Linked DNA regions of Homo sapiens. The protein of the gene in region 1 purifies or fractionates together with the protein of each later gene. This does not show direct contact. Each region holds a gene or a part of one and is shown on either strand. Other genes may lie near its edges. The genes, in order: PGAP3 and VKORC1L1.

Evidence for each region.
Region 2: the proteins of PGAP3 (region 1) and VKORC1L1 purify together in Homo sapiens (affinity purification with mass spectrometry; 2 studies listed by BioGRID and IntAct, with this or other methods). This does not show direct contact.

Annotation. Positions count from the first base shown.
Region 1 is NC_000017.11:39,684,978-39,695,198, reverse strand, and holds the start of PGAP3 (GPI-specific phospholipase A2-like PGAP3 isoform 1 precursor), read left to right. Parts: upstream 1-7,141; 5' UTR 7,142-7,184; coding exon 7,185-7,365; intron 7,366-9,179; coding exon 9,180-9,277; intron 9,278-10,221. UniProt on the Homo sapiens protein: Involved in the fatty acid remodeling steps of GPI-anchor maturation where the unsaturated acyl chain at sn-2 of inositol phosphate is replaced by a saturated stearoyl chain.
Region 2 is NC_000007.14:65,874,809-65,885,118, forward strand, and holds part of VKORC1L1 (vitamin K epoxide reductase complex subunit 1-like protein 1), read left to right. Parts: intron 1-1,013; coding exon of another isoform or gene 1,014-1,161; intron 1,162-10,310. UniProt on the Homo sapiens protein: Involved in vitamin K metabolism. Can reduce inactive vitamin K 2,3-epoxide to active vitamin K, and may contribute to vitamin K-mediated protection against oxidative stress.

The DNA.
Region 1 (10,221 bases):
TCTGTCCTGCGACTCACCTCACTTTTGTGCATGTCCACAACAGTACATGTCACTCTCATCACTGCCTGCGCAGGCATGGCTGCCAGGGTCTGAGTCTCTGTGCTGCACTGCGTTTGTCCTGGCCATTCTACTGGTGCCCCCGTTTTATCTGTGACTCTTTGCTCAGGGAGTAGCTTTGCATGTGGTCTTGAATATAGCTTTGCTTTGCCACCTGAAATAGAAGAGTTGGACAGAATGGTTCCTGGTCACAATATTTTCGGATTTGGTATAGGGACAGTGACCCCTTCAACCCCCATACTTGTCCCTTGAAAGCCCCACTGAGCCATCCTTCTCCTGGATTCTGGATTCCTTGTTTCAGGAGCACTAAGTCTTCCTGCCCGCTTCATTCCACTGATCCACTGGGCCTTTCAGGACATCACTTGCTCACTCGACTTGCTGCTGGAGGTATAGACCACTGGGGTATGAATGAGGGCATTCTTGCCTCTGACTTTTGGTCCAAGGAAGAGGAGACGAGGAACCTTTGAGAAGCATACAACTATGGCAATCACAAAGTCTTGATTTCAGGGGACAATTCGTTTCTGATGGTTTCATTCACTGAACCCACCTGGTTGATTCTTCTCTTCCTTTGCCCTTCAAATCCAATCATTCTTTAAGATCTATCAACTCCTCTTTTTGATACATTTATGCTTATTCTACCTCCATCACCAGCTAGTCTGAGTCTCTATCATTTCTCCTTTGGGCTAAAGCACCAGACTTTGATCACTACCCCTCCACCAGTGCTACTTTTGACACCCTGCAATTCTCCCCGCAGCAACAGCAGCCAAAGTAAATGTTTTATTATTATTTATTTTATTTTATATATACACATATATATGTGTGTGTGTATATATATATACACATATATATGTGTATATATATATATATACACACATATATATATATATATATATATATATATATATATATATATATTTTTTTTTTTTTTTTTTTTTTTTTTTTTTTTTTCTGAGACAGAGTCTCACTGTCACCCAGGCTGGAGCGCAGTGGCATGATGTCGGCTCACTGCAACCTCCGTGTCCCGGATTCGAGTGATTCTCCTGCCTCAGCCTTCCGAGTAGCTGGTATTACTGGGATTATAGCATGCACCACCACATCCAGCTAATTTTTGTATTTTTGATAGAGGCAGCGTTTCTCCGTGTTGGCCAGGCTGGTCTCAAACTCCTGACCTCAGGTGATCTGCCCACCTCGGCCTCCCAAAGTGCTGGGATTATGGGCATGAGCCACTGTGCCCGGCCTATTTATTTTTTAATTGAGACTCCTGACCTCAGGTGATCTGTCCACCTTGGCCTCCCAAAGTGCTGGGATTACAGGCATGAGCCACCACACCCAGCCCTATTATTATTATTATTATTATTATTATTATTATTATTATTTTATTTTCGAGATGGAGTCTCGCTCTGTTGTCCAGGCTGGAATGCAACGGTGCAATCTCAGCTCACTGCAACCTCTGCCTCCCGGGTTCAAGCAATTCTCCTGCCTCAGCCTCCTGAGTAGCTGGGATTACAGAAGCGCACCACCATGCCTGGCTAATTTTTGTATTTTTAGTAGAGGATTGCTTTAGCCCAGAAGTTTTTGGCTGCAGTGAGCCATGATCACACCACGGCATTCCAGGCTGGGCGACAGAGGGAGACCTTGTCACAAAACAAAAAAAACTAATAGTCTACTGTTTACCAGAATACTTATCAATAGCAAACAGTCCATTTACACACATTTTGTATGTGATATGTGTTATATACTGTATTTTTACAATAAAGGAAGCTAGAGAAAAGAAAATGCTACTAAGAAAATCATAAGTAAGAAAAAACATATTTACCATTCATTAAGTGGAAGTGGATCATCACAAAGGTTTTCATCCTCATCATCTTCACATTGAGTAGGCTGAGGAGGGGGAAGAGAAAGGAAAAGAGATGGGGTTGGTCTTGCTATTTTGGGGGTGGCAGAGGTGGAAGAAATGTGAGTATAAATGGACCCGTGCAATTCAAACCTGTGTTGTTCAAGGGTCAACTGTATTTAACTCGATGCTTGCTACTGCATGAAATTGTTTTACATTTTTTCTTTGTGTTTTTGTTTTTGTTTTGAGACAGAGACTTGCTCTGTTGCCCAGGCTGGAGTGCAGTGGTACAGTCTTGGCTCACTGCAATCTCTGCCTCCTAGGTTCAAGCAAGTCTCCCACCTCAGCCTCCCAACCAGCTGGGATTACAGGCACTTGCCATCATGCCTGGCTAATTTTTATGTTTTTGTAGAGATGAGTTTTCACCGTTTTGGTCAGGCCGGTCTTGAACTCCTGACCTCAGGTGATCTGCCGCCGGCCTCGGCCTCCTTAAGGGCTGGGATTACAGGCATGAGCCACCACACTCAGCTTTTCTTTGTTTTTAACTGATTATATACACAGACGGTACACACTTTTAAAGGTACAAAAATAAAAAGCGTTCCTGGCCAGGCACGGTGGCTCACGCCTGTAATCCTAGCACTTTGGGAGGCTGAGGCGGACGGATCACCTGAGGTGGGGAGTTCAAGACCAGCCTGACCAACATGGAGAAACCCCATCTTTACTAAAAATACAAAATTAGCCAGGCGTGGAGGCGCATGCCTATAATCCCAGCTACTCAGGAGGCTGAGGCAGCAGAATCGCTTGAACCTGGGAGGCAGAGGTTGCAGTGAGCTAAGATCGCGCCATTGCACTCCAACCTGGGTAACAAGAGCAAAAACTCCGTTTAAAAAAAAAAAAAAAAAGTGTTCCTTACTTCCCTATTGATCAGGCACATAGTCCCACTTCCCACCAGAGGCAAGAACTATTTCCACTTTCTTTTTTATCTTTCTAGATATATTCTCAAAAATAACAACCATAATACTACGCGCATAACACGTACCCTTATTTTTCTTCACATGGGGTACTGTATATAAGTGTATAGGTGTACATACACATGCATACACACACACATATTTTGTTCTGCACTGTGCACTTGATACTTATCAAAAATATTTGGCCAGGTGTGATGGCTCATGCCTATAATCCCAGCACTTTGGGAGGCTGAGACAGGTGGATCACCTGAGGTCGGGAGTTCAAGACAGCCTTACCAACATGGTGAAGCCCTGTCTCTACTAAAAAATACAAAAATTAGCCGGATGTGGTGGCACACACCTGTAATCCCAGCTACTCGGGAGGCTGAGACACAAGAGATATATATATATATATATATATATGTATATGTATATGTATATGTATATGTATATATATCTATATCTATATCTATATCTATATCTATATCTATCATGAAGGTTTTACCATGCTAGTACATTACAAATCTGCCCCATTCCTATTAATTTCTGTTCAGCCTTCCATTGTATGGCTCTCCCTCCATTAATATAATTCATTCCCTATTGATGGACATTTAGTTGTTTCCTTTTTCTTCTTGCTATTGAAAACAATGACTAATGCTACCACAAATAACTGTACTTAAACAAATTTGCACTTGTTTAGGTATACTGGAGCTTATGTAGGTATACCTAGGAGTGAAATTCCTGGGTTAGAGGGTATGTGTGTGTGTGTGTGTGTGTGTGTGTATATATATATATATATATTTTTTTTTTTAATGTAGATGGAGTCTCGCTCTGTCACCAGGCTGGAGTGCAGTGGCATAATCCAGGCTCACTGCAACCTCCAACTCCCTGGTTCAAGCAATTCTCCTGCCTCAGCTTCCGGAGTAGCTGGGATTACAGGCACGTGCCACCATGCCCAGCTAATTTTTTTGTATTTTTAGTAGAGATGGGGTTTCACCATGTTGGCTAGGATGGTCTCGATCTCCTGATCTCATGATCCGCCTGCCTTGGCCTCCCACAGTGCTGGGATTACAGATGTGAGCCACCGCACCTGGCTTCAGTCTTTTGTTTGACACTTGTTTATGGCCTGTTTCCCTCCTCTGACCATGAAAAGTACAGTGCCTTGTTCATCACTCTGTTCCCAGAGACTTGCACATGGTAAACTTAATAAACATTTGATGAATAAGGAACCCACATTGTAGACTCTCTACCAATTTTGATCTAAGAACATGGTCAGCTTGCCGTTGAGCCTTTAGCACACTATACTTTTTTTTTTTTTTTTGAAACGGAGTTTTGCTCTTGTTGCCCAGGCTGGAGTGCAATGGCACGATCTCAGGAGTTTCTCCATGTTAGGTCAGGCTGGTCTCGAACTCCTGACCTCAGATGATCCACCTGCCTCGCCCTCCCAAAGTGCTGGGATTACAGGCATGAGCCACTGTGCCTGTCCAGCACACTCTACTATTAACATATGCTTTGTCTTTTTTTTCCCCCATGAGTACAATGGCTGATACACAGGAGGACTCAATAAGCCTGAGTTGAAGGAATGAATTAGTGACTTTTCAGACTGTGGATCACATCTGAAGCCAAATACAAGTTAGGAAGAAGGACAAGCTAAGGAGGCTCAGGGGAGAACTAGGGGCTCCAGGCTAGAAAGTTGGGAAGAGAGGCCAGGTAATCGCCATCTAGAGATTGTTATCTGGGGCTGTGCTGGCAGGGAAATTCTCAAGAGCTGTCCCAGAGAGACAGTACCCCATCTTCCAAGAAGTCAACAGAACAGAAGTCTCTACTCCCACTTCCACCATTAACCTAGGATTGCTTTTTCCATCAGGTATGTAGGCATGGGTTTTCAAGGACCTCTGAAATACTTTAGACCCGAACAAATTTCCATTGTTAGTTCTAAAATATAAGAAAGCTGCGAAAATTAATATTTTATGGCCGTGTGGCATGGCTCACGCCCGTAATCCCAGCACTTTGGGAGGTTGAGGCGGGAGGATCACTCGAGCCCAGGAATTGGAGACCAGTCTAGGCAACATAGCAAGACCGTGTCTCTACAAAAAATTAAAAAAATTAGCAGGGCATAGTGGCGCATGCTGCAGTCCCAGCTACTCAGGAGGCTGAGATGGAAGGATCACTTGAGTCTGGGAGGTTGAGGTTGCAGTGAGTCGTGATCATGCCACTGCACTTCAGTCTAGGTGAAAGAGTGAGAGGCTGTCTGGGAAAAAAAATTTTTTTTAACTAAATGTATATAAATGTAGCAATATGTCAACTATTAACAGCAATTAGATTGAATTATATATATGTATAGTTATTTATAAATCTTATTTAATGTGGGGCGTTACTGCATTTCAGTATGTTTGACATAATATAGGATGAGGCCTTCAAAATTGGAATTTTCTTTTTCTTTTTTTTTTTTTTTTTGAGTTTCGCTCTTGTTGCCCAGGCTGGAGTGCGATGGCGCAATCTTGGCTCACCACAACCTCTGCCTCCCTGGGTTCAAGCGATTCTCCTGCCTCAGCCTCCTGAGTAGCTGGGATTACAGGCATGCACCACCACACCCAACTAATTTTGTATTTTTAGTAGAGATGGGGTTTCTCCATGTTGGTCAGGCTGGTCTCAAACTCCTAACCTCAGGTGATCCGTCCGCCTCGGCCTCCCAAAGTGCTGGGATTACAGGCGTGAGCCACCACCCCCAGCCTTACTTAGGAATTTTCTAAAGGGGAGACTCCCTATTTTGTCAGGATTTCATCCTCTTTAATCCTAAATGTCCATCTTTATATGAGGATCCTCATAAAAAGACTCATCCCAGAGTCACAGAAAGGACAAAATGAAATGAAAAAAGAAAAAAAAACAGTATTGTAAAAGAACTAATCTGTAAGATGCAAAGTAGTATTAGCACTGGATTTCCGGTCAGCTCCTGGAGGGCTAAGGGGTTGTTTTGTTCATTTCAGCTTCTCAGTCAGTATCAGTTGGGTGGTCAACTCCAGGGGACACTATTCATGTTATATTTAACTGGAAGAATTTGCCATTCACAGAAAAGGCAATGTGAATGCTGCTCCCCAGAGCACCATTCACAGAAAATGCAATGTGAATGGTGCCTCCTGGAGATTTTGCCTTGCTTAGCAAGGTGCTAGAGCTAAGGACTCAGAAATGTTTGTTAAGTGAGTGAATGGAATCCCAGGCTACTTCTTACTCATTCCAACCCCCAGGACGAAAAAGAAAAGTTGACAAGGGGTGAGGAGAGTGGGGGAGGAGAAAGGGTGATCCTTAGCTACAAGGCTTCTATGAGATTGGGTGTGGGTCGGTGCTGATGGGAGTGCAGGGGAGGTGAGCAGGGAGAGGATACTAAAGCAAGCGTCCTGTTCCCAGGGTTCCTAATTTTCCTAGAAATATTACTTCTCTCCGATCTCAGTGCAGAACCATACTGATGATTTTACAGCCCTGGATTTGTCAAGTTCTTATGTTGATGTATGCTGTTCATTCATTAAACAGAAGAACAAACAAACGCAGTTAGCGCCTACCATAAGCCAAATTCTGTGCTGGAGGTAGAGTGGTGAACAGGACAGCAAAGGTTCTACCCCGCATGGGGAAGCAATCACCCTCGGGAGGTGGTACTTCAATTGCGACTAGAAGAAAAAAGAAGAGTGAGTGATTCAGACCAGGCCAGGCAGTCAGGAAGCTTGAGGGACATAGCCCTCTGAAGCGGGTCTGGAGCAAGGGAGTGAGGGAGACCAGTGGACAGGGGCCAAATCAGGCAGGGTTTGTGGAGACTGTATTTTACCCAAGGTAATTGGGAGCCAGTAAATAATTTTAAGAAAAAAAAAGTGATATGGGCAAATTTTAATTTTTCAAAATGGAGCGCAGGTTGGAAGAGGCAAAAGTAGAGGCAGGGAGAGCCATTAAGAAGCTACTGCGGCTGTCTTGGCGACACATGATGGTGTCTTTAACCAGGGTGGTGCCAGAAGAGATGGAGAGAAGTGGATAGTTACAGGTACGTTTAGGAAGTAAAATCCGACAGGGGTGGTGACAGTAAACAGCCCTACCTCAAAAAAGATCATGGAAAACACTTCAGTTTGCTCATTAACCCATCAGGCGTCCGCCTTCCCTTAACCCTATCGCCTCGATATATGGACACAGCAGGGGGACGAGGGGCGGGGCAGGCGCCCACAAAAATCCGGGAACTTTAATTTAAACTGTGTGGACTTCAGCGGAGAGTAGAATAAAGAACACAGGAACTTCCGGTTACTCCGGAAGTGGAAGCTTCATACTCCTAAGCTCCTCCCCCGGCGGCGAGCCAGGGAGAAAGGATGGCCGGCCTGGCGGCGCGGTTGGTCCTGCTAGCTGGGGCAGCGGCGCTGGCGAGCGGCTCCCAGGGCGACCGTGAGCCGGTGTACCGCGACTGCGTACTGCAGTGCGAAGAGCAGAACTGCTCTGGGGGCGCTCTGAATCACTTCCGCTCCCGCCAGCCAATCTACATGAGTCTAGCAGGTAAGCCCCACCCCCACGGTAAGCCCCGCCCATTTGTCTTGCTCCCGCCCCCTGCGCCCCCAATACGCCTCTGCAATCCCTGAACCTTAGTTTCCCCACGAGGTCTCTTATGAATGTGAGTGAAGCCCCTAAGGTGATGAGAGCCTTACCAGCCTCTCTTACTTTCCCAGAAGCTTTCATTTACTTATTTGTTCAGTCAAAAGGGTATTTATTAAATACATTCGGGCCACAATGTCTAGGAATGGCACAGAAATCAGACCAGGGTCCCGCCCATTGGGACTCACAGTCCCCACGGGGACATGAGCCTTTTCAAGTGCAAGGCAGAGAATGATTTGAGCCCCTGAAAGACTCTTTGATTAGGAAGCATTTGGGATAGGAAGGTGTCAGTTCCGGCTTTGAAGACGTGGGGGCAGGGATCATCTTGGAACGTTTTGTTTGAAGGAGGGACTTTGGACTGGTACATTCGATTTGGACCATAGTGGGCAAAGAACCAACGTATTGAGCACTCACTGTGTGACAGGTGTCACAATATGTCAAGTAATTTTTATCACACCCTTTGAGATAGTTTCTCTAATCCCAGTTTTACAGATGGGGATTAGAGAGATTAAATGCCCTGCCCAAGGTCACACAGCCAGTATGTAGTAAAGTGGAGTTTCCAGTTCTGGCCTGTTTGACCACAAGCTTGTCCTCTTTACTATTATACCACTTTGCATTCCAGACAGAGGGAACAGAGAGAATGGATGCCCTGGGCAGATGTGGGCACATCCAGGAGCTTTATTTACTCAGGGAGCAGGGTACATGAACAGGAGTAGTGACCAATACGGTTGGAAAGGCAATTTGGAGCCTCAAAAGTCAGGTTGAAGAATTTGGGCTTCATTTTCATAGGAAGGGAGTAAGATAGCAAGAACTCCTTCCAGGAGAGTAAGAGCAAATCCTATATTCAGGAAGGACAAATATAAACCCAGGTTTCCATAGATGAGTTCATCAGATGCCAACATCTTGATGGACTTGAGCAAAAGGAGAGGAAATGTCTGCCAAGGTAGAAAGATCATCTGAGCCCTGGAGTTCAAGACTAGCCTAGGCAACATGACAAGATGCCTTCTCTACAAAAAATAAAAGAATTAGCCAGACATTGTGGTCTCGCTACTTGGGAGGCTGAGGTGGGAGGATCGTTTGAGCCCAGGAGGTCAAGGCTGTGGTGAGCCATGCTCTCCCCACTGCACTCCAGCCTGGATGAAAGAGCGAGACCCTGTCTCAAAAAAAAAAAAAAAAAAAAAATGCCGGGTGCGGTGGCTCGTGCCTGCAATCCCCGCACTTTAGGTGGCAGAGGCAGGCAGATAACCTGAGGTTGGGAGTTCAAGACCACCCTGACCAACATGGAGAAACCCCATCTCTACTAAAAATACAAAATTAGTTGGGTGTGGTGGTGCATGCCTGTAATCCCAGCTACTCGGGAGCCTGAGGCAGGAGAATCGCTTGAACCCAGGAGGCGGAGGTTGCAGTGAACCGAGATCGCACCATTGCACTCCAGCCTGGGCAACAAAAACAAAACTGTCTCAAAAAAACAAACAAAAAAAAGACGAATATCTCTAATTGCTCACTAAAATATGCATACATACGTACATACACCTTCCCCTATGTGTACATCTCATCATCTCTCATTCATTCAAAGGGGAAGCTAGAATTTTGAGATTTCTCCTGGTTCTCTCCAACTTACAGGCCCTCTTGGCCTACATTTGCGCTTGGACCCCATTCATGCTCTCTCTTTCCTCTCTGTGCTGGGGAGTTCACCAGGCCACATTTGTCTGTTTCAGGCTGGACCTGTCGGGACGACTGTAAGTATGAGTGTATGTGGGTCACCGTTGGGCTCTACCTCCAGGAAGGTCACAAAGTGCCTCAGTTCCATGGCAAGGTGAGTTGGAGGGTCAGGGTAGGCATATGGTAGTAGCGTGGTAGGAGTAATATACCCCCTGGTTGGACCACACTGTCCAAGCAGTCTGAGGCATGGGGTAATGCGTGTGTGTTTGGGGCAGCTACCTGTTCTCCCCAAAATCTGCTGGTTTCCATAGAATTGGATAGGACCCATGTGTCCTGCCTCTGGATTTGGAGTAGCAATATCTGGAAGGCTTTGGAGTCTCCCCAGAGAGTGGTGCTGGGCCTCTTAGAGTGGTTGAGATGCCCACCTTACTGCAGGGACAAATTCCCTTACCTACTGTGGCTTGTTTCCTGTTGCTTCTCCAGTAGGGGTCTGGATTCACAGTAATATGCTTCAGCTTGTCTAGCGAGGCACAGTTTGCTGGTACCTTTCTTTCTTTTGTTTTTTGTTTTTTGTTTTTTTTTTTGAGATGGAGTCTCCCTCTGTCGCCCAGGCTGGAGTGCAGTGGCATGATCTTGGCTCACTGCAACCTCTACCTCCCAGGTTCAAGCAATTCTCATGCCTGAGCCTCCCAAGTAGCTGGGACTACAGGTGTGTGCCACCACACCCAGCTAATTTTTTGTATTTTTTTTTTTTTTTTTTTAAGTAGAGATGGGGTTTCACCATGTTAGCCAGGATGGTCTCAATCTCCTGACCTTGTGACCCTCTCGCCTCAGCTTCCCAAAGTGCTGGGATTACAGGCGTGAGCCACCGCGCCTGGCCTGCTGGTACGTTTCAATCCAGTATTATCTCATTCTGGCCTGTTGAGGTTGGCAGGAAGTATTCACCCCAGTTTTTCACAGAGTAAGCTGAGGCTCAAAGGACCGTGGTCAGTGGTAGAGGAGGGGTTGGGACCTGTGTCTTCTGGATGGCAACTCTGTGCTGTTTCCACCAGGCCATACTGAGTCATCTACCCTGACCCATCTGGTCTTCCCAGAGAT
Region 2 (10,310 bases), on another chromosome or scaffold:
TAAATAAATAAAATATAAATAAATAATTTTTAAAAATTGACTTGTCTTTAAAAAAGTGTATTTAGCATACACTCTAAATATTCTCATAGTTATATCCTGCAAGAGCTGCATGTTTGTGCATAAAACATCAAGTAGTATATTAAAAGTATGTATAAGTACATGTAAGACTAAAGGTAACTGGATCTCTTTATAGTTTTAAATGTGAATTTAATATGTTGTGACTGAAAGTGATGTTTCATTGTGTAGCTGTGGACATAAAATAGTTTAACTTAGATGCTTGCCAAAGGAGGGTAGGTAAAAATAAGATTTGCTAATAAGAAGAGTAGATAACTTATTTGCCATGTATACAGTGAAATTAAGAAATTTGTTCAATTTGATCAGCCTGTTTATAAACTACTTGCAAAAATCAAGTAGCTTATAAACTACCCATTTAATAAATGAATTTACAAATCAACTTGTTTTGCAGGTAGTTTATATGCAGGCTGATCAAAATCACATATGTATATATACATATATAATCACATATATGTACATATATAGACTCATTTTCTTTTGGAAGTGTGTAGACAAAACATCATTGAAAGTTTTTATTTTGTCAAGCTGAAAGACACTTTTCTTTTTTTTTCTGAGACGGAGTCTTGCTCTGTCACACAGGCTGGAGTGCAGTGGTGCGATCTCGACTCACTGCAACCTCCACCTCCCGGGTTCACTCCATTCTCCTGCCTCAGCCTCCTGAGTAGCTGGGACTACAGGCGCCCGCCACAACGCCCTGCTAATTTTTTGTATTTTTGGTAGAGACGGGGTTTCACCATGTTAGCCAGGATGGTCTCGATCTCCTGACCTCGTGATCCGCCCTCCTCGGCCTCCCAAAGTGCTGGGATTACAGACGTGAGCCACCGCGCCTAGCCTGAAACAGACTTTAAATGAAAGCTGATTATTGGACACCTCAAGTTAGTTTTTTTTGAGTGGTGATTGCCATGTAGCAGTAGTACTCAAATATGTGACTCTTTTAGGAAAAGAAAGTTTGAGCCCAGAGGAAAGTTAACAGACAAAGATTCTGAAGAAAATCATCTTCCAGGATCCAGAGTCAGCACGTGGTTTTGGATTGCTCAAACTCACTTTATTCTCATTTCGCAAGCCCTGTGTCTTAATCCAAACACGGTAAGGTAGAGATTAATGAGAGAATCTTGAGAGGCAGGTGTTATCTGTGTGTAAAGTCCTCTATTATTTTGGGGAGGCATAATGATGGAAAGTTCCAGATTTTATATTTCTAAAGAAATATTTCACCGAAATTAGTAGGCTACAATAGAAATGCTGATTTTTCAATTCTACCATGTACAGCCAGTAAAAACAATAACACACCACTATCTCCTGTCACCATCATTTCATTTAACAAAAGGATATTTCCATTCAAACAATTTGAAAGAACAGAATCTCTCAGAATAAAATATTTTTAAATGGAATCATTTAGCTATATGGAAAAGTTTACTTTCAGACCAGCCTGGCCAACATGCTGAAACCCCGTCTCTACTAAAAATACAAAACAAGCTGGGCGTGGTAGCATGCACCTGTAATCCCAGCTACTCGGGAGGCTGAGGCAGGAGAATCACTTGAACCTGGGATGCAGAGGTTGCAGTAAGCCAAGATCGCGCCATTGCACTCCAGCCTGTGTGACAGAACGAGACTCTGTCTTTAAAAAAAAAAAAAAAAAGTTTACTTTCGTGTCCTTACTTTTTCCCATTTTCCCATAAATCGGTGAAAACTCTGCTGCAAACCTGCACCAGCCTGCCAGCTAACATTCAGTTAGCAGTCCCTGCCCCCTTGGTTTGGTACACTGAGCTCAAATCTAAGGGATCTGGGTGGGCTTCCACCTCTCCCAGTTCTTAGGCTTGTGGCCTTATCTTCATGGTGCCTCAGTTTCTTATGTTAAATAGGGCTTTTAACACCTACTTAGGGCCTGGTGCAGTGGCTCACACCTGTAATCCCAGCAGTTTGGGACGCTGACACCTGGCAGACCTCTTGAGCTCAGGAGTTTCAGACCAGCCTGGGCAACAGGGCAAAACCGTGTCTTTACAAAAAATACAAACGTTAACCGGGCATGGTGGCGCATGCCTGTATTTCCAGCTTCTTGGGAGGCTGAGGTGTGAGGATCACTTGAGCCTGAGAGGCTGAGGTCTGCAGTGAGCCATGATGGTGCCACTGCACTCCAGCCTGGGTGGTAGAGAGAGACCCTGTCTCAAAAAAAGAAAAACAAAAAAACCTACTTTGCCAGATTAGTGTTACGATGAAAAGTGATACATGTATGTTCCTGAAATAAAGCCTGTCCTCAGTTATAGCTGTTACCATTGATTGGAGATGTTCTTTTTTTTCCAGTGTTTGATAATAAATGCCTTTAAGTATAAGTTTCTTGTACATACTTGTTTATATGTTTAAACATTAATTGTTTTAATGTAGTTTATTGCTGACTTTATAGCATAGTATAAAGATGTGTTCATTTAAAACAATTTTGAAGTTGTGCAAGAGAAACTAATGCAGAATATTCTTTTTTTTTTTTTTGATGGAGTCTCGCTGCTCTGTCACCCGGACTGGAGTGCAGTGGCATGATCTCAGCTCACTGCAACCTCCACCTCCCGGGTTCAAGCGATTCTCCTACCTCAGCCTCCCAAGGAGCTGGGATTACAGGTGCCCACCACCATGCCCGGCTAATTTTTGTATTTTTAGTAGAGACAGGGTCTTGCCATGTTGGCCAGGCTGGTCTTAAACTCCTGACCTCAGGTGATCTGCCTGCCTCAGCCTCCGAAAGTGCTGAGATTATAGGCATCAGCCACCGTGTCCAGCTGTAATATGCAGAATATTCTATGTAGGTATTTTCTATATATAAGACCCCCTCTAAGAAGGGTTTCTATGTAAGAATAGTACAAATGATCTGGAAAGGTTAATAGGCTTGACAAATCTATGTTTCTTAAAACTGTAAAAATAGTCTGGTTGTCCTATGGTCTATGTATAGAACATATACCATAGGGGATTGGTTTCAGGACCCCTGTTTTTACTGAGATCCTGGCATACTCAAGTCCCCACTGTGGGCCCTGCAGAACCTGAATGTGAAAATTTGGGCCTCCATATATGCAGGTTTCGGTCTGCATTTGGTTGAAAAAGATCCACGTATAAGTGAGCACACACAGCTTAAACCCGTGTTGTTCAAGGGTCCACTGCATTTGAAAATCAAGTCCATAAAAAAGTTGCCTTATTTTACAAAATGTCGGATTACTACCTCTCCCATATCTTAAAAAAAAAGTACCATCTATTTACTACCCCATTGAGATAATAAAACTTTTAGAATTAGAATAGAACCTAGGGCTGGGCATAGTGGTTCACGCCTGTAATCCCAGCACTTTGGGAGGCTGAGGTGGGTGGATCACCTGAGTTCAGGAGTTTGAGACCAGCCTGGCCAATATGGTGAAACCCCTTGTCTACTAAAAATACAAAAAATTAGCCGGGCATGGTGGTGGGCACCTGTAATTCCAGCTACTCGGGAGGCTGAGGCAGGAGAATCACTTGAACCCGGGAGGTGGAGGTAGCAGTAAGCCGAGATTGTGCCACTGCCCTCCTGCCTGGGCAATAAGAGGGAAACTCTGTCTTACAAAAAAAAAAAAGAACCTAGAAGTATTTACTGCTCTTTGCTTTGTCTGAGACTCAGAGGTTAAGTGACTTGCCCAAGATAGCACAGGTAGTAGCAAATTGAGACTTGACACCTGGCTTCCAGAGTACTTATTTAAAGTCCCCTTTGCACCCCCATTTTAAAAATTAAATTCTTGGCTGGACGCAGTGGCTCACGCCTGTAATCTCAGCACTTTGGGAGGCCGAGGTGGGCGGATCACGAGGTCGGGAGATCAAGACCATCCTGGCTAACATGGTGAAACCCCGTCTCTACTAAAAATACAAAAAAAATTAGCCAGACATGGTGGCACACGCCTGTAGTCCCAGCTACTTGAGAGGGGCTGAGGCAGGAGAATCACTTGAACCCGGGAGGTGGAGGTTGTGGTGAGCTGAGGTCGTGCCACTGCACTCCAGACTGGGTGACAGAGTGAGACTCTGTCTCAAAAAAAAAGAAAAATTAAATTCTTGTCTAGGTAAGGCATTCGCTGCTTCGGATTTGAAAGATAACAAAGCATGTACAGTGAAAAGTCTCCTTCATATCCCTTCCACCAGACAGTTCTCCCGCTCAGTAGACCGCTGTGAAACTTTTCAGAGCCGTTTGACACATAGACAAACATCCACGTGACCATATGATTCCTCCCTTTTTTTAACATGGAAGTATCACGTATGCATCCTTATTGATAGCCTGCTTTTTGCTTGGCATTCGTTCCATTGCTCCCATACTTTAAATGCTTATGTTCATATTTAGTGAAATGTTAATAACTGCTAGTACGTAAAAGAGAATTTGTTCTAGTAGTTTTGACTAACCAAGATAAATTTCAGAAATAAAATTCTTAACATTATCATTGTTTCTTGGTATGGAAATTTCAGAAGCAGGTTGAACTGAAAAGAGTCCAAGAGGAATAGAGAAATATCACAAGGAAGTGAATCTGGACTGTAGTAGAGATAAATGTTAATACTTACAGATAATGCTTACTATGTGCTAGGCAGTGTTCTAAATGTTTTGCATACATTATTGAAGTCTCTCAAGAGTCCCATGAGGCAGGTAGCTTTTATCACCATTTTACACATGAGAAAACTGAGCAACGCAGACTAACACTTGATCCAGGTAGTACAGTGGCAGAGGCCTGATTCTAACCCAGGCAGTCTGGCTCAAGAGTCCAAGCTCTTTACCACTACTCTTTCGTCTTCCTTTCTTCCTTTCCCTCCCACCCTCCTTCTTCCTTTCCTTTCTTTTCTCTCTTTCTTTTCCTTCCTTCTTTTCTTTCTTTTTCCTTCCTTCCTTCCTTTTCTTTATTTTTCCTTCTTCCTTCCTCCTTCGTTCCTTGCTTCCTTCTTTCCTTTTCTTTTTCTTTCCTTTCCTTTTTTTTTCTTTCCTTTCTTTTCTTTCTTCTTTAACTTTTTGAGACATTGTCTCACTCTGTCTCCCCAGGCTGAGTGCAGTGGTGCAGTCATGGCTCACTGCAGCCTCAACCTCCCTGGGTCAAGTGATCCTCCAACCTCAGCTTCCTGAGTAGCTGGGTCTACAGTTGCACACCCCACCATGCCTAGCTAATTTTTTCTATTTTTCATAGTGACGAGGTCTCACTTTGTTGCCTGAGTTGGTCTCAAACTCCTGGCCTCAAGCAGTCTTCCCACTTGGCCTCCCAAAGTGCTGAGATTACAGGTGTGAGCCACCACGCCCAGCCTTTTACCACTACTTTAAATTCCATTTAGATCTAATATTGATAGAGTGATAACCATATCAACCAGATTTTTTAAATATGCAAACAATGGTGCCAGTTTCTGTATCTATGTGACAAAAATATATAGAGTTTGTGGTATCACTTTTACCTGTTTAGAGCACTCTTTGGAAAGGCAGGGAAATTACTGTGAAGGTATTGGTATTCCAGAAGTAAGTTCCTGGAGTGTTTGCCTTCTAAGGTGTGAGGACGTGGTTTGTCACACCCAGTTAACTAACAGATAGACGGTGTAGTGAGCTGTCCGGAAGACTTAGCAGGTTAGCCTAGGGAGGAAGGAGAAAGGGGTTCTGGGCACATGGAGGGAGGGGGAGGGAAAAGAGTTTGTTTGAATCTGTCCTAGATTGGGGTAGCTTTTTCGGAGGGAGGCCTTGTCGTGTGGACCTGCTGCATATAAAGACAGGAGAATTGGACCTGAGGTGTGGTGCTAGCTAAAGCGCCACACAGATCTGGGAATTTAAGAGGAGTTCATTTCCTCAATCATTAGGAAGAACTTGAAAGGGTAGCAAACTGTGGTCATTTGAGAAGAACAGCAAGTGGTCATATTTGAATGTAACATATTCAACTGGGTTGGGAAAGAACCAGAATCTAGATCTTGCCCATAGCAAGTGCAAAACCAGGCGTTCTTATAAACCATGTACTCTTGTAAACACTGATAAGACATAGCACTGAGTCCTGAGCTTTTCTTCTATAAAGTTATTGTACAGGTTGAGGATCCCTAATCCGAAAATCCAAAATCTGAAATGCCCCTGTGAGCATTTCCGTTGAGTGTCATTGGCACTCAAAGTTTTGGATTTTGGACCATTTCAGATTTTGAACTTTCAGATTTGGGATGCTCAACCGGTATATAATGCACATATTCCCAAATCTGAAAAAATCCCAAATCCAAAGCATTTCAGCTCCAAAGTGTTTCAGATAAGGAATATTCAACCTGTACTACATTGTACTAGGCTTGTATTAGATTCCCAGTTTTCAAAATTTGTATCTCAGAATCCCTGTTCTCTGTCAATGAAACAGGGATTTCATACACCTTTGATTCACATTTTAATGTTTTAAGTTTAAAATATTATAAATGTTTATACACAGTCAAATGAATCTCATGCTAAATTTTAATATATTAGAGACAACTGATTTGTCTGCCAGGTTATCTCAAGAGAGTTAATACTGAGTGAAAACAAGTGAGAACCCTAAAAGATTACATACTGTATGATTGCATTTATGTAACATTATTGAAATAACAAACCTGCAGAGATGGAGAACAGATTTAGTGGTTGCTAGGAGTTAGGAATGGGAGGTGAGGGGTGGTGTGGTTATAAAGTGGTAGCATGAGGGAGCTGTGTAGGGATGGAACAGTTCAATGTCTCAGGTGTGATTATACAAAGCTGCAAATGTGATAAAAACTTCATACAACCACACACACACATACTGCATATAAATCCTAGCGTACTCAAGTCCCATTTTGCATACAAAACTGGTGAAACCTGAATAAACTCAGGATTGGAGGAATTTGGGCGAGGGTACTTGGGACCTCCCTGTGTACTTTTTTGTAAATTCCTGTGATTTATAATTATAGTAATTTTAAAATAAAAAGTTGGCCAGGCACAGTGGCTCATGCCTGTAATCCCAGCACTTTGGGAGGCTGAGGCGGATGTATCACGTGAGGTCAGGAGTTCAAGACCAGCTTGGCCAACATGGTGAAACCCCATCTCTACTAAAAATACAAAAATTAGCCGGGCATGGTAGTGGGTGCCTGTAGTCTGAGCTACCTGGGAGGCTGAGGCAGGAGAATCACTTGAACCTGGGAGGCAGAGGTTGCAGTGAGCTGAGATCATGCCACTGCACTCCAGCCTGAGCGACAGAGCAAACTCTGTCTCAAGAAAATAAAATAAAATAGACTGGGTGTAGTGGCTCACGCCTGTAACCCCAGCACTTTGGGAGACTGAGGCGGGTGGATCACCTGAGGTCGGGAGTTGGAGACCAGCCTGACCAACATGGTGAAACCCCATCTCTACTAAAAATACAAAATTAGTCGGGCATGGTGGTGCATGCCTGTAATCTCAGCTACTCGGGAGGCTGAGACAGGAGAGTTGCTTGAACCCAGGAGGCAGAGGTTGCAGTGAGCCAAGATCACGCCATTGCACTCCAGCCTGGGCAACAAGAGTGAAACTCCGTCTGAAAAATAAAATAAAATAAAATAAAAAGTAAAAAAGCAAAAAAAAAAAAAAAGTGCATTTAGAATATTTGAGAGAAAATAAGCAAAAGGAAGAAAATGTAAATTATCTATAATGCTTACACCCAGGACAATAATCCTTGGAATAGAGTGTCTCACTTTGTGTATAGAAATGAAACTTTTAAAATGCCATTTTATTTTTTAATTAAAATTTTTTCTTTCCTTTTTTTTCCTCCTCAGAGTTAGAAAGGATAAAAATGTTATTGATTAGTAAGACTGTAGCTTTATGTTGATATTTTGAAATTTTAGGCTAGTGCTTGTTTGTTCATGTAACATATAAGCACATTCAGTACTATTAGAACTGTTGCATTATGCAATAACATGACTGCCTAATGCATATATCAGGATTAGTACATATTGTAAAGTTTTTATTTTTTACCAAAATGTTTACGACTACCAAGTATTCATTCCTTAACACTATTACATAATTAATTTAGAAATGTTTTACTTTTAAAACTTCTGGACAGGTGTAATTAAATCCTTAGATAGCGTTAATGTACTATTTAAAAAACACACACAAAACATTATCATTGGCAAAACATGCTTTATCATCTATTCATCTTTGTGAATCCGGTTTTTCTTGATACCATGCCATCAAAACAAAACAAATTTGACATAAGACTGCCCAATCATCCATAATTTAAAGTTGGTGTTCGTCAGAAGAATTTTATTGTTCTCATTATACATGTTATACATTTGAGCTTTTTTTTTTTTTTTTTTTTTTGGAGATGGAGTCTCACTCTGTCACCCAGGCTGGAATGCAGTGGTGCCATCTCGGCTCACTGCAACCTCCACCTCCCAGCTTCAAGCGATTTTCCTGCTTCAGCCTCCTGAGTAGCTGGAACTACAGGCATGTGCCACCATGCCTGGCTGATTTTTTGTGTGTGTATATTTTTAGTAGAGACGGGGTTTCACCATGTTGGTCAGGCTCGTCTCGAACTCCTGACCTCAAATGATCCACCCCCACTTGGCCTCCCAAAGTGCTGCAATTACAGGCATGAGCCACCACACCCGGCCACATTTGAGCTTTAAAATACATTGATAGAATAAAATACTGCTTTAATCTTTTTTTGTTTGTTTTTTGAGACGGAGTTTCACTCTTTCACCCAGGCTGGAGTGCAGTGGCGGGTTCTCGGCTCACTGCAACCTCTGCCTTCCAGTTTCAAGTGATTCTCCTGCCTCAGGCTCCCGAGTAGCTGGGATTACAGGCACCTGCCACCAAACCCGGCTAATTTTTGTATTTTTAATAGAGATGGGGTTTCACCATGTTGGCCAGGCTGGTCTCGACCTCCTGACCTCGTAATCTGCCCGCCTCGGCCTCCCAAAGTGCTGGGATTACAGGTGCAAGCCACCACACCCAGCCTAATCTGTTTATGTTATAGATGCACATAAAATTTCATTTAGAAAAATGTTCTTGTAGTGCAATATTTAAAGCTATTGAATTACGATTCATAAGTTTTATTTTGTAGTTAGCATCTCTAACTAGGGGAATTTCAGGGACACTGTTGGCTGTCTTGTGATTACCGATCCTTTTAAAAACTCATCGTATTTGAGAAGTAAAGTAGTAGAAAATCTATGACAAAATCAGGAATTAAAGTAGACAGTATACTCAACTCCACTGTGTTTAAAGTGTTTGATTAATTTCTATACATTGTGCCAGTGGTTAAGATCTGGGACTCTAGAGTCAACCTGAGTTGAAATCTTGGCTCTGTCACTTGATCTCTTGTCTCAGCTTCTTCCTCCATAAAATGAGGGTAGTAATAGTGTTAACTCATAGGATTATTGTGACTATGAAGTGTACCAGTACATGTAAATAGTCCTGGTGTCTGGCATAAAGGTACTCATAAAACATAGTTACTGTTATTTTAGAACATGGTTTAGATCTTGCTGTATGTTTAATTTGTCTTTTCCTCACTTAACATGTCACAGCAGGGCACGGTGGCCATAATCCCAGCACTTTGGGAGGCTGAGGCAGGTGGATCATCTGAGGTCAGGAGTTTGAGACCAGCCTGGCCAACGTGGTGAAACCCCGTCTCTACTAAAAATACAAAAATTAGCTAGGCATGGTAATTCACACTGATGGTCCCAGCTACTTGGGAAGCTGAGGCAGGAGAATTGCTTGCACTGGGGAGGCAGAAGTTGCAGTGAGCCGAGATCATGCCATTGTACTTCAGCCTGGGCGACAGAGTGAGACTGTCTCAAAAAAAAGAAAATATTACCACTATTTTCCCATGTTGTTAAAAATTCCACCAGTAATGGAATAGAATATTAGGTGCCCTGTGCCCTTGCCAAATTGGGCATTCTCATTTTTTAGATATTTGCCAATATGATATATGAAAATTGTCATGTTATTGTTTTGATTTGCATTTTCCCCAAGCATCAGCAAGATTTAATGGTTTCACATTTAAAAAATTTATTTTTTAATTTATAATCACCTTGTTTGATAATGAGGTTTTCATGTTTTTATTAACTGTGTTTCTTCTCCTGCCTGGATAAATTTTAGAATTTTTCACATTGATTTAGACGAATGCTAGTACAAAGGTTTTTTCAAGTCTATGATAATTTTAATGATTTTTCTTGGTAATTTTTGTCTGTAGATTCAAGTTCAGACAGGCATTTCCCATTCTGATATTGTGTAAATATATGTAATTTGTTAGTTCTGAAAAACATGACTTCTTAAATCT